7 linked regions of the Homo sapiens genome follow. The protein of the gene in region 1 purifies or fractionates together with the protein of each later gene. This does not show direct contact. Each region holds a gene or a part of one and is shown on either strand. Other genes may lie near its edges.

Region 1 (3,500 bases):
CTGGAGAAGCAGATGATAAGGACGCAGCCTCCCACAGAGCTGGGAGTGGGAACAGCAAGGCCAGGGTGGCTGGAGGACACTTGGTCAGAGAGTTAGTGAAGGAGACAAAGCCAGGGGGCAGGGAGGGGGAACTGGAATGCACAGGGTCTTGGAGGCCTGAGTGAAGACTCAGGAGTCTAACTGGAAGGCCGTGGGGAGTCACAGAAGGCGGATGAGGGAGCAGACAGTGTGGTTTACATATTATGACAATCCTCCAGCTGTCACGTGCAGGACACATGGTGAGGGCAGACACAGACTACTGGCTACACCCTCAGCTGCGACCCTGGTGGCTTGGACAGGGGCCCAGTTCTCACCGAAATCGAGACTCTCTTCTCTCCATAAACTGATTCCCCAGGGACCAGGTTCTTGGTGACCAGTGCATCTTCCTTTCCTCGACAAATGAAGACACCTGGGTGAGGGGATCAGAGCAGGGGTGAGGACCCCCAGCCTCTCCCTGCCCCGAAGCTCAGCCGGCTCCCTGCCTTCCTCACTCACCCTCATGCCGATGCGGCTCCACCATCACATTCTTCCCCGACTGGTTTCCTCTTTTTCCTCCCCGACCACGACCCCGGTTGCCACCAGAATGGAAGCCTCCACCTATAAAGGAGAGGTACAACAGGAGAGAAAGATCCTGAATCTCCGCCCTCCCCACTCCCCACCTCAGGAAGGCCTCCTCTGTAACCCCTAGCCAATCTTACCACCTCTTCCTCCTCCTCCACCGCCGCCGCCGCCTCCACCTCCTCCTCGTCCACGACCTCTAAAGCCTCCGCCTCGACCTCGGCCCCCGCCAAAGCCCCCTCGGCCTCCACGACCACCACGGTCACCAAAGCCCCCTCGGCCGCCAAAGCCACCCCCACGGGGACTGAATCCTGTGGGGGAAACAAAACAGGAGTCAGGGCAATGAAGCTTAAAAGGTTAAACCACCTTGTACCCAGCAATACCTCTCAGGTGAGAAACCTGAAATACATGTGCCCGTGTACAGCAGGACACATTTCCAAGAATGTCCACAGCAAAAGAAAAGTGAAGACTAACCCAAATGTCCATCAATAGAATGGGCAAATAAAATAGAAGACATTCACAATCAAGATCATGAAAATGACCTTCAGTTATACACAACAGACTAATAAATGTTAAAATCATAATAATTTTTTTTGCTTAGTGCTTTTTTTTTGAGACAGGGTCTTGCTGTGCCGCCCAGGTTGGAGAGCAATGGCACAATCACAGCTCACCGCAGCCTCGAACTCCTGGGCTCAAGCAATTCTCCTGCCTCGGTCTCTGAAGTAGCTAGATTACAGGTGTGTGCCACTACTCCCATAGTGTAGAGATGGGGGTCTCACTATGTTGCCCAGGCTAGTCTCCAGCTCCTGGCTCAAGTGATCCTCCTGCCTTGGCCTCCTGAAGTGCTGGGATTACAGGTGTCAGGCACCACACCCAGCCACAATCATACTGCCCAAGAAAAGGAGCAAGGGAATGAGAAATGTAAAACTCATGATATTGGTGAATGGGAAGGAGATATTAATATGGGGTTGGGATAGGGGAGGAGTACATGAATAGATGTAGGTTACTGTTAATATCCTGGTTTCCTTGGTTGCATAGCAGATTCACAGAATTCATTCCATGTCAATATTAATTACTGTGAAGAGTGAGCCCTGCATACGAGCACATGCTGTGACAACAGGGCCCCCTAGACTCTGCAAACGTCTTCATACTCTCCCACTCCTGACCTTGGAGCTGGAAGAAAAGTGTCAACCCCAGCCCCAAAACAGAGGGGAATACAGGATGATGTCAGCCCTAACTCATCTCCCTGCTTCCAAGCTTAAAGAAGTCCCTCTCAGCTCAGGGGAAAAACAAGAAAAAGCAGAACAAACTGTCATTTAAGGATAGGCTGCACTTTACAAGTAGTTTGCGACTTGTCAGTAAGATCGAAATGTTTAAGAAATAACAGACTCAGACAGGCTTTATTCTTACCAGTTCAGGACAACAAACACCATTAGCACAAAACAACGTTTAAAACAGAACTCTGGTGCTAACAGATTCAATATTTTCTCTGATTTGGTTTCAAAAACTCAGAAGTACTAAATCACACAAGTTAAAAAAAATAGTTGGAAAACTAGTGGTTTAAAATTATCTCACATTCTCACATGATGTAATCTATTCAATCATAAGCTTGCTTTTTTTTTTTTTTGAGACGGAGTCTCACTCTGTCACCCAGGCTGGAGTGCAGTGACACGATCTCGGCTCACTGCAAGCTCCACCTCCCAGGTTCACGCCTTTCTCCTGCCTCAGCCTCCCCAGTAGCTGGGACTACAGGCGCCCACCACCATGCCCGGCTAATTTTTTTGTATTTTTAGTAGAGAAGGGGTTTCACCGTGTTAGCCAGGATGGTCTCAATCTCCTGACCTCTTGATCCGCCCGCCTCAGCCTCCCAAAGTGCTGGGATTACAGGCGTGAGCCAGCGCGCCCAGCCTTGCTCATGTTTTTTGTAAAGATACATTATGATCTTGTCCTACGAACCCTTCATGCACCTTAATGGTATTAAAGATAAAAAATGTGTCTTTTAACAGCCATTCCTAATTTAATCTTTAAAAATGAACGGTTTCATTTTCAAAACTCCCAAACAACCAAAAGTTGTTTACTTTTAATCTTCTACTCCCTCTACAGTCCACTTTTCACACAGCAGCTAATACATGCTATTTTTAAAACAGCAAGTAAGATCTCATCATGCCCTTGCCCAAATCCCTCCAATGGTTTTCCACCACATCCAAAATGAAATAAAAAGTCCTTTCCCTGGCTTACAAAGCCTGAAATCAAAGCCTAAAATCTTTAGGCTTTAAATTCTGATTTCATTGTTCTGGGCGCAAGGTCTTCCCCTAAAGCTCTCCAGGTGACTCCAAGGTGCAGCCCACATTGAGTATCATCATCCTAAGGATCTGGCCTGTGCTGACTTCCCTGACTTCATTCTCTTTATGCTGGGCCCCATGCTCTTCCCCACCAAGCATACACAGTCCAGCTTCTAAATCTTTACCACGTGCTGTTCCCACTGCCTGGCTCCTGCAGACATGTGCATGGCTCACTCGCTCCTTCACTGCATTCTGGTCTCTGATAAAATGTTAGTTCCCCAGAAGGGCCTACTTTGGCCACAGTACCCTTACCCTGCTTTATTTCCCTTCAAATCAATTATCACACATGGCATTTTTAATATTATTACCACCTGCCTCCCCCACTAAGATCAAGCTCCAAATGGGCAGGGATTTTTAACTGTTTTGGTCACCACCGCATCCCCAAAACCCTGCACAACATCTGGCACAAAGTATGGGCTCAATAAATGTTAAATGAGCACTGAGCTGATGACTCTTAAACCCTGGGCCCTGCCTCAAGGAGAAAGCACCCTCTATTTGTTCAGAAAGCACACAATCCATCAGATGGTGACCAGGGAAGTGCCGGTCACTCCCCTCAAGTAT
Region 2 (3,931 bases), on another chromosome or scaffold:
AGGAGGGTTAAAACATTTCTGTCGTTTGCGTTTCCAAAGACAGCTATCATCATCTGAATCAGAAAAACTTTCTTCACTTGAATCCACACTTTCAACAGCTCGATAATGTGATACTGGTGCACATGCAGTTGCCGTGTTCTGGAAGGCCCTCATAGCACTGTCGCCACCTAGCACTTTCTGCAAGTGAAAAGAAACACAATCAATTTCACAAAACACATAAACTCCACCTACCTAATTTTTAAAAATTTAGAGATTCAACTTTGCCATTCCAAAATGGAACTGATCTTCAAAGACAAATCTGAGACCAATCAAGTTCCTACTTTTCTAAGTTCCACATGGAATTTGCCAATTTAAAAGCCACAAATTCTTATCTTTACAACTAATGCAGCACTTTGTTCTAAGATCTCCTTCTACTATATTACCAAAGCTCTTGTCACCTTTAAAAGATTTCAAACTTTTCAGTTACTGTCAGAATGTTTTAAAATGACATACATAATAATTGTTACTTTTTTTTTTTGAGACAAAGTTTTGTTCTGTGGCCGAGGCTGGAGTGCAGTGGAGCTATCATGGCTCACCACCTCTCAGGCTCAAGCGATCCTCCTACCTCAGCCTCCTGAGGGACTGGGACTACAGGCAACCTTCACCATACCCAGCTATTTTTTTTTTTTTTTTGCATTTTTTGGTAGAGACGGGGTCTTGCCAAGTTGCCCAGGCTGGGCATGTATTTTTTTTTTTTTTCTTGAGATGGGAGTCTTGCTCTGTCACCCAGGCTGGAGTGCAGTGGCGCGATCTCGGCTCACTGCAAGCTCCGCCTCCCGGGTTCACACCATTCTCCTGCCTCAGCCTCCGGAGTAGCTGGGACTACAGGCGCCCGCCACCACGCCCAGCTAATTTTTTTGTATTTTTAGTAGAGAGGGGGTTTCACCGCGTTAGCCAGGATGGTCTCGATCTCCTGACCTCGTGATCCACCCGCCTCGGCCTCCCAAAGTGCTGGGATTACAGGCGTGAGCCACCGCGCCCAGCCTGGGCAAGATATTTTTAAAACCCCAGAGTCCACGGCATTAAGTTTATTTACCAAGTCATGGGTCAATTTATGTAAAAACAACCTGAGATTGAAAAACAAAATATCTTGGTACTAATTTCCTAAACATTTATATGCAAAAGCAAGTATTTGTCTTTGTTAAACTCCTACTACGCTAGAAATGGAAGTTGGGACTATCTATCTTCCTATCTTCAAATAATAATCAGAGATAACACTTACCAGGCATTACTGCACACTGTATGCTCCACAGAATCCTTGCAATAACCCTATCAGTGGTACATCATGCCAATTCCACAGAGGTAGACAAAAAGCAGTGAGGCTAAATAAACCTGCTGTAGGTCACACATCGGTGGCCCCAGGATCTGAACACAGGCAGCCTGGCACCAACGCCCTCTCAAAGAGGTTGCTACCTACCAAGGCAGTCAAGACAAATTCCCGTTTAGAAAGCAGGGAAGCTGGGCCGGGCGCGGTGGCTCGCGCCTGTAGTCCCAGCACTTTGGGAGGCCGAGGCGGGTGGATCACTTGAGGTCGGAAGTTCAAGACCAGCCTGGCCAACATGGAGAACCCCCGTCTCTACTAAAAATACAAAAATTAGGCCGGGCGAGGTGGCTCACGCCTGTAATCCCAACACTTTGGGAGGCCGAGGCGGGCGGATCACCTGAGGTTGGGAGTTCGAGACCAGCCTGACCAACATGGAGAAATCTCGTCTCAACTAAAAATACAAAATTAGCTGGATGTGGCCGGGCGCCGTGGTTCACACCTGTAATCTCAGCACTTTTGGAGGCCGAGGCAGGCCGATCACTTGAGGTCAGGAGTTCGAGACCAGCCTGGGCAACATGGTGAAACCCCGCGTCTACCAAAAATACAAAAATTAACCGGGCGTGGCAGCGGGCGCATGTAATCCCAGCTACTCGGGAGGCTGAGGCAGGAGAATCGCTTGAACCCGGGAGGCGGAGGTTGCAGTGAGCCGAGATCGCGCCACTGCACTCCAGCCTGGGCAACAGCGTGAGACCACCTCAAAACAACAAACAAAATCAGAGAGGCTAATGCAAAAGCCTAGTGCCATGGTACCGCATGACAAAGCTAGGTTCGGTGGAAACATGGAAAACCAGATCTTTGAGTGAGCGATAAACTTCATTCCTGGGCCTCAGTCTCCCTTCGGCTCAGGGAGAAAATGAGCATCACAGGCTGTTTCAGGCTGATGTCCCTAGATGCTACATATTTGGCAAAATCTGCCCCTTTATGGTTACCTAGCGGCGATGGAGTGGGGAAGCCCCAAGTTTAGAAAAGAAAGAGCGGTAGGCGGAGGTGAGACGTCTAAGAGGCCGCCGCAAGCCGGCCTCCAGGAGGCGCCAGGGCTCGCGCGCCCCGCCTCGCAGGGAGCAGCCAGTTCGGGGTTCGCACGGCCAGCCGCTGCCGCTGCCGCCGTCGCCCCTCGCCCCTCGGCCCCCGCAGCCCGGGCTCCGTGAGCCCGCCTGGGGGACGTCTGCTCGCCCCTTCTGCGGCCACTGACCCGACAGCCTGGGCTCCTCGCTCTGGCCCGGGCTCCTAGCTCCCACCCCTCACCCTCACCGCTGCCTGCGCGCTCCCCGGGGCCCAGGCTCCGCGCGCCCAGCCACGATCACCCACCCTCCTTTCACACTCACTGGCAATTGCAGCGGCCTGTCGCTGGGTGCGACCGTCATGTCGGAATCCGAGTCGGAAAGCTGCCCATCTTCCATATCGCCGACCTCCAACGCCATCTTCCCGCGGTGCGCTGCGCTGCACAGCGGCGGGTCAGGAGAGCACTTCCGGCGGGGCAGCCGGAAGGCCCGGCGGCTCGGCTGCTCGGGCGCCCCCGCGCGGAGGCCAGCCTGTCCCAGCGGCCTGAGGCGTCCCATTGCATTCCAACTACCCCGGGAAAATGAATCCCTTGTTCCCCCAACACTTTTCTTCCAAACTTTATTTTCGTGCAAACATAAATATGTCACGTATCGCGGTCGTCTGGGATTCCTCCCTTGGCCGTACATCCTTCCCCTGTATGCTCTGGACAAGCCTCCCCGCTTCTGTTCTTGCTCCTCCACAATCCACTCTACATATTGCTTCCAGGGAAGCCTTTCAAGCTGTATAGTCCGCCCTCTGTATCCACTCCCCATCCACGGATGCCGAACCTGCGGATGGGAAGGACCCACCGTGCACCCCCACATAATGTAAGGGGCTTGAGCATGGCGGATGTTGGTATCTGTGGGGGTCCTGAAAACAATGACCCGCGGATACCTAGGGAGGATTGTACCTTAGCTCGAATCTTCCAAGTGCATCCCTCCCCAAAACAAGGACTGAGTTCTCAGCATGGTGTTTGAAATGTTTGTTTTCCGGTGTCGTAAAGAAATAGCAACATAAATTTAACTTACTGAATAAGGCCATTTTTACTTTCTGCAGAAAGGGTACACTCGCCAGCAGTTTTGCCAGGAGAGTACACTGAACAAAAGGAGACAGGGTCATTTATAACCTGACGTGTTTACCTTACTGCTGTGGCTGGTTTTTATTGGCTGGACCGGACCTCACATTTTGTATTTGTCCCGATTGGCTAGCAACTTAGAACTTTTTAAAAGAGGCAAAGGTAGAGGAGAACAAAGGAAGGAGGAAGTAACTTGTGGAATGCTGAGAAAGATGAAAACACTTTTAAATAAGGAAGAGGAACAGGCTATGACCTAATGCTTGCTTGGACTAGTAAAAGCATGCCAGGGCAAATATTTAGGCTAAATTGTGGGAGCTAAGAACATAAAGTACATTTTTTTTTATTATGGCTAGCAGATATTTAAGAATGTTAGCACAGATCTTTGAATAAATTTTGCTTTTAAGAGAAGTTACTATTTATTCCTAATTAGACGGGGAGGAAAGTTTTTGAAG
Region 3 (3,500 bases), on another chromosome or scaffold:
CACCAGAAGGATCGTAAGTCTTCACTTCACTGAAAGACCCAAAAAGTTTTAGAAAATCTCTAACAAGTATCTGGAATTGAAATAATTCTCAAGAGATAAAGAAAATGCCATTAGATAATACTTACATAAGCACACAATGTTGTTTCATTTTAGTGGCTTTGGGGTAGTTTATGAAGACTAATAGTTTCCAAAAGTTAAAGGTATTAATATTTTTCAAGTAGGTCAATCACATTCAAGAGATGTGGTGAGCTAAATGAATTCTGATTTAGTAATCAATGTAGTTACTATGGTACAGGAAAACACTCAATCAGCATGGGGGAAATGAAAGGAGAAAACGTCTTCACACCTAACTAGAAAGTGAAAACTGAACCATCCAACTTTCAGAACACTGCTCAATGGGGGAAAAAAAAAAAAAAAAAAGCAGAACAAAAAATCTAAACCAAGCTTAGTATAGAAGTCTTCATCACAAGATCACAAGAACAAGAAAGGATACAAATACATGCACATGGAAAAGATTCCATAGAACCCAACATTTGCTTTTGTTCTAATGTAAGCAGAAAGAAAATACTGAAATGAGTGCCTAAAATGTGAATGGATGCTTTAAGTGCATATGTTTAAAGTAAAAAGTACTAATTGCACAGGAACATTAAAAAAATTGGTTCAAAACAAGCTAAAAAATGTTCTGTTTTTTAAGCAGACCTGTAAGCTGAATGACTATTTAATTTTTTTAGGTTAAAGACATTTATAATTTAAGAAACAAAGAACCATGTTTGTCAACTAGAGATAATAAGTTATAGACTATAAATATTGCAGAATGTATGGCTATTGTAGAAAGCTTGGAAAATTCACAAAAAAGAAAATGTGAATGCCCACAGAAACACATTTGATTTCTTTCCAGAAAACACTAAATTATACTTAAATATGTATTTATAATTGGTAATGTTCTATATATTAATTACTCTCCTCATCCACTTATAAGATTTTACTATTAAAATTCTTGAAGGAGGCCGGGTGCTGTGGCTCACGCCTGTAATCCCAGCACTTTGGGAGGCCAAGGCGGGCGGATCACGAGGTCAGGAGATCAAGACCATCCTGGCCAACATGATGAAACCCCGACTCTACTAAAAATACAAAAATTAGCTGGATGTGGTGGTGTATGCCTGTAATCCTAGCTACTCGGGAGGCTGAGGCAGGAGCATAACTTGAACCGGGGAGTCAGAGGTTGCAGTGAGCCGCAATCGTGCCACTGCACTCCAGCCTGGCAACAGAGACAGACTGTCTCAAAAAAAAAAAAAAAAAAAAAAAAAAAATCTTGAAGGATTATGACTCCTGAAAGTATAATTTATTGGGTTAATGACTAGGAACATTTTGAAGAATCTTGATACATACTGTGAAATGGCTTCCTAGAACAGCTGTGCCACATTCTACCTGCATCATCACAACCTCACCAGCATTGAGCATTGCCTCAAATAATAACCCAAATACCCCTCCACATACAAATCTTTTGTTAATCTGATAGTTAAGTTTGAATGCTTTGTCATGCCTCAGCCATCTTTAGACTTGTTTTCTGTCTTTATACTTTTTACAAAATAGGTTTCTGTAGGGATTAACTCTGAATGAACTTTTTTTGAGACGGAGTTTTGCTCTTGTTGCCCAGGCTGGAGTGCAGGGGCGCGATCTCAGCTCACTGCACCCTCCGCCTCCCGGGTTTCAAGCAATTCTCCTGCCTCAGCCAGGTGCCCGCCACCACACCCAGTTAATTTTTTGTATTTTTAGTAGAGATGGGGTTTCACCATGTTGGCCAGGCCTGTGTTGAACTCCTGACCTCAGGTGATCTGCCTGCCTCAGCCTCCCAAAGTGCTGGGATTACAGGCATGAGCCACTGTGCCCGGCTGAGTGAACTTTTTGATAAAGAACATATTATAGAGGAACTTTAGATTAAAAAAATTTACTATCAATATCTGGAAATGAATAAATTAAATATGTATATGAATGAAAACTAGTAGAAGTTAATGCGGAAAACTAAATGGCATGGAAAAAAATTAGGGGTGCACAACATGGTTAACTACAGCTAACAATGTATTATATTCTTGAAAATTGCTAAGTAGATTTTAAGGTGTCCTCACCACAAAAAAAGTACATAAGACAATGCATGTTAATGAGCTTGACTTAATCATTCCTCAATGTGCACATTTTCCAAAACAACATACACACAATAAACATACACAATTTTGGTCAAATAAATAAATTTGAAAAAACTATGGGCACATCAAGGTGAAGTTTACAATAAAAAATTACTGTCAATAATTAACATTTAAAAAAACTATTCACCCCATCCTCACTTAAATGTACTCACCTTTTGTGTTCATATTTTTCTGTTTTTGCTAATGCTTTTCCTGTTCCACTTATTTTTCTTATCTAAGAAGAAAACGAAAAATTACAAATACACTTCTAAGTCATAATCTCTTTATAATACACTATACAGTCTAGTGAATCAGTGGGCCAGCAAACAGCAATTTCTGCTATTTTTTGTTTTGTTATTTTGAATAGCATATCCTAATGGCAAATGCAGTTGGATACATCAATTCTTGGTAAATAATAGCAATTGTTAACAGTAGGCACAAAAAGAATACTTTAGACATACTAATAAGTATCATAAAACTGTTTAGCAGATGAAGTTAATAAATTTACTCAGTTTATTAACTTTTGACAAGTAATACTTCTGGAATAGGCATGATGTAGTTCTTACCCCTCTGTCTTCCAAAGTTCTCAACCTGGCCTCTAATTTGGCTCTGTTCTCAACTCCCATTGCAGAACTTGAATCCTCACCAAAAGCATCATAACGGATAGCCAAAACGGTTTTGGCTGCCAGCATTCGAGAAATCTAATAGAAAAACATGAAGAACTATATTCCATGTTCAGATGTAAAATCCTCAATAACTTGGATGTTTTAAAATCAGGAGTTATAAAACTATTATGAATCATACAATTCAAATCATCCATCGTATTTCAACCTTTGCCACAATCTAATGGCCATATATCACCACCAACACTTCTGTGGCTGAAAAGATTTTACAGCAATTCATGTCAAATATTAGCTCAAACTAGGTTTTTTTAAAAAATATTTTTAAACTTTAGTTTCTACTCAGTGACATTAGTTCTGTGCTATGAGGTCACTGAAAAGAAGTGCATCTTTTTCCTCGTAACAATCTTAAATATGTGCGGGTTCTGGCCGAGCGCGGTGGCTCACGCCTGTAATCCCAGCACTTTGGGAGGCCGAGGCGAGTGGATCACGAGGTCAGGAGATCGAGACCATCCTGGCTAACACGGTGAAACCCTGTCTCTACTAAAAATACAAAAAATTAGCCAGGTGTGGTGCCGGGCGCCTGTAGTCCCAGCTACACTGGAGGCTGAGGCAGGAGAATGGCGTGAACCTGGGAGGCAGAGCTTGCAGTGAGCCGGGATGGCACCACTGCACTCCAGTCTGGGCGACAGAGTGA
Region 4 (3,500 bases), on another chromosome or scaffold:
ACTCTTACCTTCTGAATATATGTGCCAAATAATAAGAATGCCATCAGTATCAACAGAGATAATGTGGTCTCCAAAGGGTTGCAAGAAATGGATTTCTGCCTTATGACCCTTAAAGGTATGTACTATCTAAAACATCGAAGTTTAAAAGAATTTCATATTATTACTCAGTCATCATGTCATATTATTCATATTATCCCAAAAACATGCTAATCCTGAGATGCTTCTGTTAAGAAATGTACCCCAACTTTTGATTATTCAAGGTTAGGATGAACACATAAATATTAAGGGACCAGGCATGTTCATCTGCTCCCTCAGCCAGTTCAACAATAAGGAAGTAAACTGTCCATTAAGAACAAAGAAATGAGACCTCTGAGGCTCTGCCTTCCATCTTGGGTTAGAGAGGAGGCATGCACACACACCTAGTTCCCTCACCCAATTCAATCAGTGCAACTACATATATCCTAGCGAGATGGTATATTCCAGAAGGCTGATCTCTAAAGACTCCATCACCAACTGGCTTTCAGATGAGATGGGAAAGGGGGATATAGGGTCTTCTTCCCCATACCCTTCTGCTTTGACAGAGATCCTTACAGTAGCTGATCCCTCCATAAGTATAGCCCCTTCTCCATGGTTTCAGTTCTCACTAGATTCCAGTAACACTGTTTCCTCTCCTTGGCCCTTTGGCCTTAGGGGTGGTAACAACTTCCTACAGTTGACAGTGTCTGACGCCTCCCCACCCCTATTTTGTTCCCCTAACCCTGACCACACCTGTGCATAAAGGTCCTTTATTAAAGTCTCCACATCTGAACCACATATAGGTTATACATATAGGATAAAGTCTCCTCATGTAAATCACATATATCTCCCTGGGAAAACTATAAACAACAATACAAAAATGAACATTTTTTCCAATTCTAAAAATCTGAACACCTTCCATTAAAGAACTCTACAGATAAGTTACCTTCCTCTGCCACAGGAAGTGATGATGAAAGACTGTGGGAACCACCTCACTCCAAGTCCCTGACAAGTACAGTGATACTATCATTTGGCTATCTTTGTACCCCCATTCCTACATTTCCTTTCATTCTAGACCATTAAGGCCAGGTCACTTCTCAAGCTAGTTGTTCCAGGACAAATTCAGAAACCAACTGGTAGATTTAGACCAGAAAAGATCTTTCCTTAGCAGTGGAGAAAACATAGAATCTAGCTTTCTCTAAACAGCGAACAGGCATCTGATTTTTAGAAAAAGAGTTATAAGCTAAGTTATACATAATAAATAACCAATCCACATAAAGTGGTGGTGCAAATATGAATTTTCTAGGAAAGTATTTTAAAACTACACTTAATAATACACATTATGTCCTATCTCAACAAATATACAAAATAGAAAACTCCTGAGATGGGAACTAACGGCATAAAAAATTTTGAAGAAGGTCTCCAAGTAATTTTGATATTCATCTCTGGCAAAGAAACTGAAGTAAAGCACCAGTTTTAAGTAAGCCTTTTCTGAAAATTTATCTTCCTCCAGAAAACTGAATATACATTAGAAAAAAAAGAATACTGTATAGTTCCAGAGTGTGCTGGGTAAAGAATGACAAAATTAAAGTTCCCTCCACTATCATGACAAACAAATACTGACTGACAAACAAGTAGTTTAGCGATACCAACCTCTTTATTACGGGCAAATGCAGAGAAAACATTTCCATAAGCAGCAAAGACTAATCTGCCATCAGCTGCCATACAGCAGATATCCTGTGGAACAGAATTACCTAGCAGAAAATACAAAATGAAAGAAACAGGGATTTTTAAGATGTTAAAGAGAAACCTCAAGTATACATATAACATTTTTCATGGCTATAATTTAAAAAAATATATAAATAAAGATCAAAGTTGAGAATCAGTGTATAAAATTTTAACTAAAATATTTTAGATATCTAATAGTAACTATCAAACTAAGGATAGGAAATCACCTTGTCCTTCCCTAAGAGAATGTCTAGGATTTGCAGAAATAAAAACATAATCCTAGAGAAATGAAAACAAGCTTTTTGAGGTTATTTGGAAAAAACTGTCATTTGAAACACAAAGCTCTGACAGATAGTCATCCAGTCTTCACGTGAACATCTTTTTTTTTTTCTTTTTTTTGAGAGACGGAGTCTTGCTGTGTCACTCAGGCTGGAGTGCAGTGATGCAATCTTGGCACACTGCAACATCCGCCTCCCAGGTTTAACTGATTCTCCTGCCTCAGCCTCCCAAGTAGCTGGGATTATAGGAGTGCACCACCACACCCGGCTAATTTTTGTATTTTTAGAAGAGACAGGGTTTTGCCATGTTAGACAGGCTGGTCTTGAACTCCTGACCTCAGGTGATCTGCCCACCTCGGCCTTCCAAAGTGCTGGGATTACAGGCGTGAGCCACATGCCTAACCCATGTGAGTATCTTCTGGAACATCAAGTTCACTAATAACTCCAGAAAAATTTTAAAAGTAACTCAAAATCTAAATCTCTAACTCTACCCTTTGGACCAACCCAAAAATATTACATATGGTATTCTATATGCCTATTCCTAAAACATTTAAAGACAATATTGTTTCTACAGTCTTCTCCAAGGGAAATATGCCTATCAATCTTTAGCATTTCTCACGTGACATATGATTCTTCTCTCAGTATCCTGGTCACACTGACCTTTTCATTTCCTCTTTTGGGGCAGGAGGGTTAGTAGACACAGGATTGTTGTACTTTTCATGCTGCAAATTCCATATTAGTATTTGTTTGCATAACCCTGTTTTATAAGTTTATCATTCACTTTTGTATTCAACTTAAGTTCCAATGCCTTTCTTCTGCCTTCTAATCTATTATTAAAATATAAGTTTAATACACATACACATTACAGTCCTTGTAGGTCTTCTGTTTCTCTCACAAGAACCATATTTGATGGTAAAACAAGTACCTCTCTGCCCTGAGAAATGTTTTATTCTATTAGATAGTTTAAAAAAAAACCCTTCCATTGGAAAGAAATACCAAAATGTGAGAAAAGGGAAAACTTCTCCTTACAGTAGAAGGAATGATGGCAAAAGAAAATCACTATAGGCTGACTATGCTTTATCTGAAATGTTTGAGACCAGAAGTGTTTCAGATTCCGGATTTTTTTGGATTTTGGACTATATGTATAACCAGGTGAATGTTCCTAATCTGAAAATCTGAAATCGGAAATGTTCCAATGAATATTTCCCTGTTAACGTCATGTTGGCTCTCAAAAAGTTTCAGACTTAGGAGCATTTTGGGTTTCAAATTTTTGGATTAAGGATAATCAACATGCATTTGGCAACCATCATACTAATAACTGATTCAGGCAAGTATCATCATAAAATATAAAAGCAGCAGGTAATAACTTTGAAGAGTACTAAGATATTTACATAGTCCCAGTGCATACTACCAAAAGATACTTATTCGTTACAAATGACAAAACACTAACTTAAAAATAGAGCCTCCTAACCAATCACT
Region 5 (3,500 bases), on another chromosome or scaffold:
AGGAACAGAGATATGGAGAATCCAATAAACCAAATCACTGAGAAAACATAAATACTTTGTAGTGTGTTCATACAATGGAATATTACTAAAAATAAAACAGCAATAAAAAATAATGAACTGCTGACATAGTCACAACATAGATGAAGCTCAAGAACATTATGTTGAATGAAAAAGCCACATACAAGAGTACATACTATATATAAAATCCAAGAACAGGCAAAACTAAATTATGCTGACAGAATTCAGAAAGATGATTACTTCAGGGGAAAAGGCTATTAGACTGGAAGCGGGGAAAGCACAAGGAACTTTCCAAAGTAATGAAATGTTCTATATCTTGATCTAGATGGTGGTTACACATATGAATGTGTATGTGAAAAGTCATTCAGCTCTATACCTCAAATTTTATGTTACCATATATATGTAAACTATACCATAATAAAAAAGAAAAAACTACATATATAAGCATGGTGAAAAATAAGGTCAGAATAAGTTAAACCAGTGTCATCCCACAAGCAATATCAAACATAGAAAATCAGAACAAAAGTTTTAACAGACACTGTATATTCAACTAGAAAACAAACCCTAATAAGACCTTCAAGTACAAAAGAATGGCTTCTTCTCCACTTTAAGAAGATACATAGGCAAGTGTTATTTCTAATAAATGCTACAGAAGTAAATTATTATTCCTAAAGAAAAACAGCCCACTATAAAGCAAAAAATAAAATTTTTCTACACAACAAGAGGAGGTACTATAACGATCAATAAGGTATGACAAGCACTTAACAGAATTTAGAGCACAATAAGTACTCTTCAAACTACCACTACTGTTATTATTATATAATAGCAATAAAAGCAAAATTTTGCTTCAAAACATGCCCAAACCACTGACTGAGATTTCCTTCAGTGCATATTACTGAACTACAGCACTTTTCATCCTAGACTTTTTTTTTCTTTAACAAACATTGAGATCAGCAAATTTTTGACAGCTGAAACATCTGGTTAGAGGGAAAACCAAGTTAACTCCAATTTTTTCAATGTTCTTTTTCCCTTGTTTCCATTTTGAAGCCATATTCACTTACCAATAAATAGTAAATGTATCTTTTTAAAACATGTCAACGGCTTATATTATTAAAAAGCATTCTTTCACATACCAAAGTACATGATGCCAATTCAATTTTTTAAAAGTGAACAGCCTTAGAAAGCTAATCAGAATGCTATATTAGAGAGGTCATTCAGTAGAGACACCCACTAGGAAAACATTAAAACAATAATTTACAATTTTGAATACTATATTAACAGAAAGAAATCACAATTTGGCAAATTTATCCCATTTGGGAAAGTGCTTCCTTAACATTAAAAATGAAGCAAAATTCACAAAAGCAATGACTATTCATATACTTTATCAACAAAGGAGAGAACAATGAAGTGACACAATAAATGTCTTACTGAAGTGGTCAGAGTTCAATAAGAGTGGCTGAACCAAACATTAACTTGATTTTCTAACATTTTAGAATATTCACTGGAAACTTGAATGCTTTAGTTAACCTCAACACAAAAGAAGGAAACTAAAAATTTAGTTCCACAATGTGATAGTTATAATTTTACTCCCATCAAATCAACTGGACCAAGTGTGTCAAAAAGTCAATTATTTGCATTTCAAAATTTTATTTAAAAACTCTTTGGTTCTGAACTCAACACCACATTTTTAAGACATAATTTTTTTGTATTATTCCTACCTTGATATGTACATTTAACAAAGCAGTCTTCTACTTACCTAGATTTTGTCTTATTAACATCTTGCTGCAAGAACGATCTCATCCAAAATTAAATCAAACCTGAAAGAAATACACACAATGACCAAGGTTTAATTTTTTGTTTCAGGCATGAATAACCATAGCTACAATACACTATTATTTTAAATGAAAAAACACAAACCAAATTATATTTCTTGATATAACATAAAAAAACCATTCAACCAGAATACCATCATTTTAATCTTTAGGAAACTATTGCTAAGTGCCCCCCAACCTCACTGCTTTTTTTGAGAAATAATAATCTATTCAAATGAGAAATTGAAACTAATTCTTTTTTTTAAAAAAAATTCTAAATTGTTTTCATTAATTTTAATAGTATGGCAATGGCAATAATTAAAATAATTACTAAAACACACATCTTTCTAGATCAGTATTTATTTAATATTATGTACATATCAAGACACACACCAAACAGCTGAAGACAAAAATGTTATAGTATTGGAACACATAAAAGTATATACACATAAAAGTATATAACAAAGTAATTTGTTAGAGCAACCACAGTAATTATCATAATAGCCAACACTGATTACTTACTAAATGCCAAGCATCATTATTCTAGAGAATAGAATGTATCAATACTCCCCATCTTCAATTTAATCTTTAATCTAGTATAAAGTGACTTCTACACCAACAATCCACTGAACATGCATTTGCCAAAAATATATCCACCATTACTAATTTTACCATATTTCAGAACTTCTGAAAACTCAGTATGTCCCACACTCTACATATCTCCTCCTCCCCATACCTGAAACTAGCTTGTGACTCTTCTAAATTCTCTATTCTTTAAAAAATAGCACCACCACACCTACCTCTGTTCTCAAGCTAGGTTACTTTAACTGTTTTATTTCCAAACTATCATCTCTGATTTGTCCTTCCTAGAACCACAGACCTAGAATTTTCTGCATCGTATCTAGAAAAGATGAGATATTTTCTCTGCCACCCAATGCCATCATCTCCCACCAACCCAGAAGTGGACATGGGGGCCTGTTAAAAACTAAACTATAAAATAAAAGTAAGAACATTAAAAGTCTATTATAAACGACTGAGTGGGATAAGCTGAACTATTGCCCCACAAAAGACTTCCACACCCTGATCCCTGAAATCTGACAATGTTACCTCATATGGCAAAAAAAAAAAAAAAAAAAAGAAGAAGTCTTTGTAGATATGATTAAATTAAGGATCTTGAGAGGGAGGATTATTCCGAATTATCTGGGTGGACCACAGTGCAATCACATGTATCCTTATAAGAACGAGACACACACTGAAGGCAATGAGAAGACAAGCGGAGAGGCCGGGCACAGTGGCTCACACCTGTAATCCCAGCACTTTGGGAGGCCAAGGTGGGCAGATCACCTGAGGTCAGGAGTTCGAAACCAGCCTGGCCAACATGGTGAAACCCCGTCTCTACTAAAAATACAAAAGTTAGCTGGGCGTGGTGGCACGCGCCCGTAGTCCCAACTACTCAGGAGGCTGAGGCAGGATAATCTTGCTTGAACTCAGGAAGCGGAGGTTGCAATGAGCCAAGATCACGTCGCTGCATCCAGCCTAGGCAACAGAGCAAGACTCTGTCTCCAAAAAAGAGGAAGAAGAAGAAGACATGGCAGAGAGAACTGAAAATGCTGCTTTCGTAGACTGGAAGGACATGGGCCATAGCCAGGAATGCCAGCACCCACCAGTATC
Region 6 (3,500 bases), on another chromosome or scaffold:
TTAAGGAATACATATTGGATGAGTCCCACTTCTAAATGAGTATTATCTTGTATAAATTCATAGTAACTTTATATGGTGAAGAGCATGCTCAACTAATTATTACTAAGATGAGAACTGTCCATAAACAGCAAGGTGGTTTTTTTTTCAAGCCAACTTCACCATCAGATGCTGCAATAAAATCCAGGAAATTTCTTTAAAAACTTTTTGATGACTTTGTATCACCAAATTTTTTATTTTTTGAGATGGAGTTTCGCTCTGTCGCCAGGCTAGAGTGCAGTGGCGGGATCTCGGCTCACTGCAACCTCCGCCTCCTGAGTCCAAGCAATTCTCCTGCCTCAGCCTCCCGAGTAGCTGGGACTACAGGCGTGCGCCACCATGCCCGGCTAATTTTTGTATTTTTAGTAGAGACAGGGTTTCACCATGTTGGCCAGGATGATCTCGATCTCTTCACCTCGTGATCCGCCCGCCTCGGCCTCCCAAAGTGCTGGGATGACAGGCATGAGCCACGGCACCCGGCCTGATTTTTACTTTTAAAAGAGGTTTCAAAGGGAACTAGTTAATAGCAGCTACTGCAAAAAGGAGTTACTGGAAATTCTGAGACAGCCAAGCAATTTTATGCCCTCCATAAACAGACACTACTGCATTAACCCAGTGGTGCCATATATTTCAAAATCAAAGGTCTTTCTAAATTTTTTAAAAGATATTCTAAATTGCCCAACCACAGAAATGTTCAGTCCACTGTATCACTAAACAACCACAGGAGGCTTTAATACATAATGCACTTAATTTTTTCTCAGAAAGATCTGTTTTGTAGGCAGGCTCAATTTTTTATTATGACTCAATGTAAATCCAACATTAGATACAACAAATAAAGTCCCATATTCATAATTTACATTAACTACATAAGCTCTGACAGATTCTTTCAATGCTACCTCCCAAATCCAAAAGAACTACATACCAGACATTAAGTAACCGGTCATGTACTGCTCCAGATAAGAAATAAAGACCTGTAATTCCATCAAAGGGCTGGCTCTCATTAGGAGGTCTGATGGTAGTGAACATCAGTGACGAAACTGGCGTTGCATGTCCTGTGAAATGCTAGAGAAAGTTAAATCTCAGTTAGGAGAGCAGATTCAAAGCAGGGACAAAAATTAATAGTATATATTATCAAAACAAGCCATATGTGATACATATCGGAAAGGAGAGCTCCACGATGAAGTAACTGTTCAATTCAATTCTAAGCAAATAAGGTTATTTGTGCTATAATTCTCCCACTTTTTAAAAAAATCCATCTGAAAATACTGAAAATTTAGATGTTCCTTCTAACTCCCATGACCCTACCACTCCGCACCTTTGTTTCTTACATTCTTGAATTAAAGATTCACTTAATTCTATCCATTTTAAAAGGCATACTTTGGGTGCTCAGACACAGCCAAGGAATTGTAGGTCCTCATTTTACTCTCAGTGAGTCGAAACCACAATATTAAGGCATCATCACAGCACCAAATATTCCGTAAGCCCTGAGTGAAAGCTTTTTCCTCCTCCAAAAATATAATACTAAATCTCCACAGTCAAATACAGTAAGTGGACTAAATGCTGGATGTAGGCTAGAAATCAAAATTACCATAATCATCACATAGTAAAAACTTTTTTATTAAGAAAATCTTTTTTGAGCTAGGCCTGGTGGCAAGCGCCTATACTCCCAGCTACTCAGGAGGCTGAGGTGAGACATCGCTTGAGCCTGGGAGGTCAAGGCTGCAATGAGCTATGATGGCGTCACTGCAGTCCAGCCTGGGCGACAGAGAGAGACCCTGTGTCAAAATCTGTTTTGTTTTTTAAAAGGTAACTTTCTTTTTTGTGGATACATAGTTGGTGTATATAATAAAATTTAAATTTTAAAAAAACCTTGTTTCGGCTGGGCGCGGTGGCTCACGCCTGTAATCCCAACACTTTGGGAGGCCGAGGCAGGCAGATCACGAGGCCAGGAGATCGAGACCATCATAGCTAACACGGTGAAACCCTGTCTCTACTAAAAAATACAAAAAATTAGCCACGCGTGGTGGCGGGCGCCTGTAGTCCCAGCTACTCGGGAGGCTGAGGCAGGAGAATGGCGGTGAACCTGGGAGGCGGAGCTTGCAGTGAGCCGAGATCACGCCACTGCACTCCAGCCTGGGTGACAGAGTGAGACTCCATCTCAAAAAAAAAAAAAAAAAAAAAAATCTTGTTTCTTGAATATTGGTTCTGTTCATTTTTCCAATACGTTTGAAGTAGACATGTCTAGTCTCTTTAACATCAACAAATCAGATTAGGAGGCTAACTTTTATCCACTAAACTATTTGATGTACCTGACAATGAAGAATTTGTATTCTTAAAATAATATCTTATGGTTCAAACTTCTGCCTTTCTCTGTGTTTACTCTATAATTTTTATGCTTACAAATAATTTGATTCGCTCACCCTGTAGACTTCTTTGGTCTCCAAAACCCATAGTTTGATTGTTCGACCAGCTGAAAGCAACATCTTTCCATCTGGGCTGATACATAGGGAACTGACACTGCTATTGTCGCCTTTCCATTTGCTATATTGTGAAGAGAAAAAAAAGCATCTCAATACATGAGAGAAAACTTTACTCAGAGCAGAAAATAACAAAAAAACAAACTGAACAATCATTAAAAATATCGCCTCAGGTCCTGTGACAATTACATTCCCTAAAAGCTTGTGTCAGGTAACTAACCCTGGACATACTACTGTGATAAAAGCTTCATTGATTGCATTCCTTAACACAGCACAATCTCCCTTTGGCAGGCATGGGATAAAGATTCTCAACAAGTATCAGAAAATGAGTGAGTGAGAGTGATAAGAATGTAAAATGGGTAGTTGTACATCCTGTGACCCAGGAGATGAACTTTGCGAATGTCCAGGAAAGTTCCATACTGGCTAGACCTCCCCAAGCCCATCCTAACCCTACCTCAATTCTCGCTTTCTCTGGAAGGCTGGCCTTTAATTAATTCCCTTAATAACACAAACGATTTCTCTAAAGTTGCAACCCAAAAAGGTTATTTCTACCCTAAATCCACATGAATGTACCCCAATCTGACAGGTAAAAATTAATTAGGTACAAATGACTCCTTTTCACTACCTCAAATATGATTAGAAGCTGGAGTCTTTGCTGTTTGTTACTCATATTAATGCTGTCATAGGCAATAGGGAACTTGGCTATTCACTTATAAGAAGTAACAGCAGGGGCAGGGCATGGTGGCTCATGCCTCTAATCCCAGCACTTTGGGAGATTGAGGTGGGCAGATCGCCTGAGTCCAGGAGTTCGAGACCAGTCTGGGCAATACAGCGAGACCCTGACTCTACAAAAACTACAAAAATTAGCCAGGCATGGTGTAGTAGTCCCAGCTACTCTGGAGGCTGAGATGGTAGGATCGCTTGAGCCCAGGAGGCAGAGACTGCAATGAGCCAAGATCGCACCACTGCACTCCAGCCTGGGTGACA
Region 7 (3,980 bases), about 20 Mb from region 1:
AAACAACAAAGTAAAGGTATGTTTAAAAAGTTTTAAAAAGCGTGTGGTCGCAGTGGCTCACGCCTGTAATCCCAGCACTTTGAGAGGCTGATGCGGGCGGATCACCCGAGGTCAGAAGTTAGAGACCAGCCTGACCAATATGAAGAAGCCCCATCTATACTAAAGACACAAAATTAGCTGGTCGTGGTGGCACATGCCTGTACTCCCAGCTACTCGGGAGGCTGAGGCAGGAGAATTGCTTGAACCTGGGAGGCAAATGTTGTAGTGAGCCAAAATCGTGCCATTGCACTCCAGCCTAGGCAGCAAGAGCAAAAACTCCATCTCAAAAAAAAAGGTTTTTTTTTAATTATAAAAATTAAAAGGGGGAAATTGTAAAATACAATAAAATTCCTCTTCAAAGGTTTAGTCTTAACTTTCTTGTTCTTTGTTCTCAAACTCAACTTGCTTGTTCTCCATGCCTCCTTGCCCCTAGTTACTGTAACAACCTTCCTTCCCAACAGCTCTAATCAATAATTCACATCTGTTCCCTTGATTACTCACTCTGCAGCCTTCCCACCCTTCAAAACCACACGTCCCACCACTGTGACTTATACATGCCCCTTCCCTTCCTTATTTGGAAAAATATTTACAAATAGCCAATCGGGTCAGTTTAGATTGTGGGGTCCGACCCTAGCCCATGGGGGAGTAACACAGAGGAAGAGACTTTACGTTAAAAATAAAAACCCCTTCCCTCCTTTGTTCAGGGTGCTCTTGCGATCGTGATTAATGCAAACAAAAACCTTTTGCAGAAGTAAATTGCCTTACTAAAAAAACTTTTGCCTGAGTACTGGTTTCACTTTGCGACACCAAACACTTTACTTCCAACGGTATTATTAATATGACAACGAAATACTTCTGTTCACCTTTTCAATACATTCAAAAAGAGAGAGTAAAAAAGAGAATGTTCCCATGCTCTGGGGTGGACGTGGCTCAGCTCAGAGAGGAAGCCCTGGCTGAAAAGGCTGCAGCTTAGGCTGTTACTCTTCTTCACTCAGCCCAGCATGTGATCACATCTTCTGTCACTCAGGTCCTGAGGGGGCGGGACCTTAAGAATTATCCAATCAGGGACGCTGGGCTGGAAACGTCCAATCAGGCAAGCAGCCGGACCGAACAGGGCGGCTTCTGGTTTGGCGGGTCCTTTGTCTCTCGGTGCAGCCGGAGCTCCAGGTCTCCTCTTCACTACTCTGTGTCCTGTGCTCCTACAGGCCCAGCCTCTGTGGCCCTGTGACCTGCAGGTATTGGGAGATCCACAGCTAAGACACCAGGACCCCTGGAAGCCTAGAAATGGTGAGAGTGCCGGTCCGACATCCCAAGCGACGGGGAGGGGCTGGTTGGAACCGGTGGAAAGTGACGGTGGCGGGACTCAGGTATCCCCTTAGTCAGCTCCACAATCTGCGCCGGAGTTCTTGCCCAGCTCGGCCTCGGTTCCCTTCAGCCATAAGATGGCGGCTGCGCTTATAGCGCAGCCCCCAGGCGTCCTGTCTCTTCACTGTGCGGTGACTGTGCCCTGGCTTGGAGCCCTCGCTGGGCAGCTGCGCACCCGCAGAGCCGCTTCTCTCCCAGATTGTGCAGAGACCACGGGAGAGTCGTCAGGGGAGAATCCTGACTCGGAGTGCGGGTTCACGAATGGGAAGAGCTTTAGTGGGTTGGGTTCACAGTTTCTCTTTTCTCCTATTAAAAATTTATGGGGCTGGGCAAGGTGGCTCACTCCTGTAATCGCAGCAGTTTGGGAGGCCGAGGCGGGCGGATCACTTGAGGAGTTGTTAGGGCAGCTAAGTTCCTCTTCAGAGACTCAACTTCCTGGTCATAAGTTGTAAAAATTGTAAATCAACCCTACCCCTTCTTTTTCCCCATTCTCCTTTTCTCAAAACATCGCGCGTTTACCCTATATGGAAAAAGTTTGTGTCTAGCCCAACCAGGATCAGCTTAGATTGTGCGGTGGGACCTCAGCCAATATGGGAAGGACACAAAAACCGGAACTGCGTTAGGGTTAAATCCCCTTCCTGGCCCAGCGCGGTGGCTGATGCCTGTAATCCCAGCACTTTGTGAGGCCGTGGCGGGTGGATCACAAGGTCAGGAGTTCTAGGCCAGCCTGGCCAACATAGTGAAACCCCGTCTCTACTAAAAATACAAAAATTAGCCGGGATTGGTGGCAGGCGTCTGTAATCCCAGCTACTTGGGAGGCTGACGCACGAGAATTGCTTGAACCTGGGAGGCGAGGTGCAGTGAGCCGAGAGCTTGCCATTGTACTCCAGCCTTGGTGACAAAGTGAGACTCCGTCTTAAAAAAAAAATAGACATCTTAAAATTTCCTTCCCTTATGTAAATACTGTGTTTGAGTAATTTCACGGATTTTTCAAACACTGAGTTTCAAAAACCAAGTGAATAACTCTGACATGACAAAGCTTGAGCCTAGTGACTCCAAGCTAAGGCTAATATTAAGCCTAAAACAGAAGGTTTTTTTTTTGGACAGAGTTTTGCGTTTTGCTCTTGTTGCCCAGGTGGAGTACAGTGGCGCAATCATGGCTCACTGAAATCTCCACCTCCTGGGTTCAAGCGATTCTCCTGCCTCAGCCTCTCAAGTAGCTGGGATTACAGGCATGCACCATCATGCTTGGCTGATTTTGTGTTTTTAGTAGAGACGGGTTTTCTCCATGTTGGTCAGGCTGGTCTCGAGCTCCCGGCCTCTGGTGATCTGCCTGCCTTGGCCTCCTGAAGTGCTGGGATTACAGGCATGAGCCACAGGGCCCAGCCAACAGGAGTTTATAAAGTCCTATTTAGCTTTTTCTGGGGAGCCTCCCCTGCAGATGTCCCAGCCTATTCACCGGAGCCATGGAAGGAGGCGTTATTCTGAGAGAAGGTACAGAGCCCCAGAAAGCTGGGGCCCCACAAGCAGATGCAGTTAAGGTTAAGATGAAAGGAAACTGGGAGGATCTTTTTTTTTTTTTTTTGAGATGGAGTCTCGCTCTGTCGCCCAGGCTGGAGTGCAGTGGTGCGATCTCGACTCACTGCAAGCTCCGCCTCCCGGGTTCACGCCATTCTCCTGCCTGAGCCTCCCGAGTAGCTGGGACTACAGGCACCCACCACCACGCCCGGCTAATTAAAAAAAATTTTTTTAATAGAGACGGGGTTTCACCGTGTGAGCCAGGATGGTCTCGATCTCATGACCTCATGGTCCACCCGCCTCGGCCTCCCAAAGTGCTGGGATTACAGGCGTGAGCCACCGCGCCCGGCCTTTGGGAGGATCTTACTGACGATGAAGTTGTTATTGTTTTGAGGAACATTTTAGACTTTGTAAAATAAAAACGTTAATTTATGTAAAAGATGAATTTCAAAAAAGTATTACAACAGGAGGAAGTACCAACTAACTCTAAAATCTTTATGGCTTGCAAAAATGTAGGCAGAAAAGGGCTTTTCTCCCTAGGGAGGAGCAAACAAGATTAGAAAGGAGGTGGGAGGGGAATGGCAAATGGAGGGTGAAAAAGTCAGATTTTACATCAGAGAATGTCTTACCCTGAAATCAGCATGTTCTTAGGAGGGATGTAAAGTGGGGCTGTATGTTGACTCAGAGTGAGGGTAGCTCAAAGTTCAGGAGCCTGAGGAAGGGAGATAAACCTAAGTAAAGTTTGATTAGGAAATATTTTATTTTAGGCCTGGCCCGGTGGCTTATGCCTTTGGGAGGCCAGCACTGGGATTACCAGTGCTGGTAATCCCAGCACTTTGGGAGGCCAAGGCGGACAGGTCACGAGGTCAGGAGATCGAGACCATCCTGGCCAACGTGGTGAAACTCCATCGTTACTAAAAATACAAAAATTAACTCAGCATGTTGGCGCCCACCTGTATTCCCAGCTACTCAGGAGGCTGAGGCAGGAGAATCGCTAGAACCCGAGAAGCAGAGGTTGCAGTGAGCCAGATCAAGCCACAGCACTCCAGCTTGGCGAC

What was found.
Region 2: the proteins of FBL (region 1) and PHAX purify together in Homo sapiens (affinity purification with mass spectrometry; 4 studies listed by BioGRID and IntAct, with this or other methods). This does not show direct contact.
Region 3: the proteins of FBL (region 1) and NOP58 purify together in Homo sapiens (affinity purification with mass spectrometry; 9 studies listed by BioGRID and IntAct, with this or other methods). This does not show direct contact.
Region 4: the proteins of FBL (region 1) and WDR36 purify together in Homo sapiens (affinity purification with mass spectrometry; 4 studies listed by BioGRID and IntAct, with this or other methods). This does not show direct contact.
Region 5: the proteins of FBL (region 1) and ZNF644 purify together in Homo sapiens (affinity purification with mass spectrometry; 3 studies listed by BioGRID and IntAct, with this or other methods). This does not show direct contact.
Region 6: the proteins of FBL (region 1) and WDR43 purify together in Homo sapiens (affinity purification with mass spectrometry; 3 studies listed by BioGRID and IntAct, with this or other methods). This does not show direct contact.
Region 7: the proteins of FBL (region 1) and ZNF93 purify together in Homo sapiens (affinity purification with mass spectrometry; 3 studies listed by BioGRID and IntAct, with this or other methods). This does not show direct contact.

The regions. Positions count from the first base shown.
Region 1 is NC_000019.10:39,839,880-39,843,379, forward strand, and holds part of FBL (rRNA 2'-O-methyltransferase fibrillarin), read right to left. Parts: intron 909-3,500; coding exon 738-908; intron 637-737; coding exon 535-636; intron 449-534; coding exon 354-448; intron 1-353.
Region 2 is NC_000005.10:126,599,816-126,603,746, reverse strand, and holds the start of PHAX (phosphorylated adapter RNA export protein), read right to left. Parts: upstream 2,801-3,931; 5' UTR 2,785-2,800; coding exon 2,689-2,784; intron 178-2,688; coding exon 1-177. UniProt on the Homo sapiens protein: A phosphoprotein adapter involved in the XPO1-mediated U snRNA export from the nucleus.
Region 3 is NC_000002.12:202,296,763-202,300,262, reverse strand, and holds part of NOP58 (nucleolar protein 58), read right to left. Parts: intron 2,885-3,500; coding exon 2,750-2,884; intron 2,419-2,749; coding exon 2,357-2,418; intron 30-2,356; coding exon 1-29. UniProt on the Homo sapiens protein: Required for the biogenesis of box C/D snoRNAs such as U3, U8 and U14 snoRNAs. Part of the small subunit (SSU) processome, first precursor of the small eukaryotic ribosomal subunit.
Region 4 is NC_000005.10:111,095,348-111,098,847, reverse strand, and holds part of WDR36 (WD repeat-containing protein 36), read right to left. Parts: intron 1,770-3,500; coding exon 1,669-1,769; intron 127-1,668; coding exon 9-126; intron 1-8. UniProt on the Homo sapiens protein: Part of the small subunit (SSU) processome, first precursor of the small eukaryotic ribosomal subunit.
Region 5 is NC_000001.11:90,980,536-90,984,035, forward strand, and holds part of ZNF644 (zinc finger protein 644), read right to left. Parts: intron 1,836-3,500; 5' UTR 1,819-1,835; coding exon 1,775-1,818; intron 1-1,774.
Region 6 is NC_000002.12:28,911,667-28,915,166, reverse strand, and holds part of WDR43 (WD repeat-containing protein 43), read right to left. Parts: intron 2,578-3,500; coding exon 2,457-2,577; intron 1,506-2,456; exon of another isoform or gene 1,417-1,505; intron 1,099-1,416; coding exon 959-1,098; intron 1-958. UniProt on the Homo sapiens protein: Ribosome biogenesis factor that coordinates hyperactive transcription and ribogenesis. Part of the small subunit (SSU) processome, first precursor of the small eukaryotic ribosomal subunit.
Region 7 is NC_000019.10:19,899,766-19,903,745, forward strand, and holds the start of ZNF93 (zinc finger protein 93), read left to right. Parts: upstream 1-1,180; 5' UTR 1,181-1,323; coding exon 1,324-1,326; intron 1,327-3,980.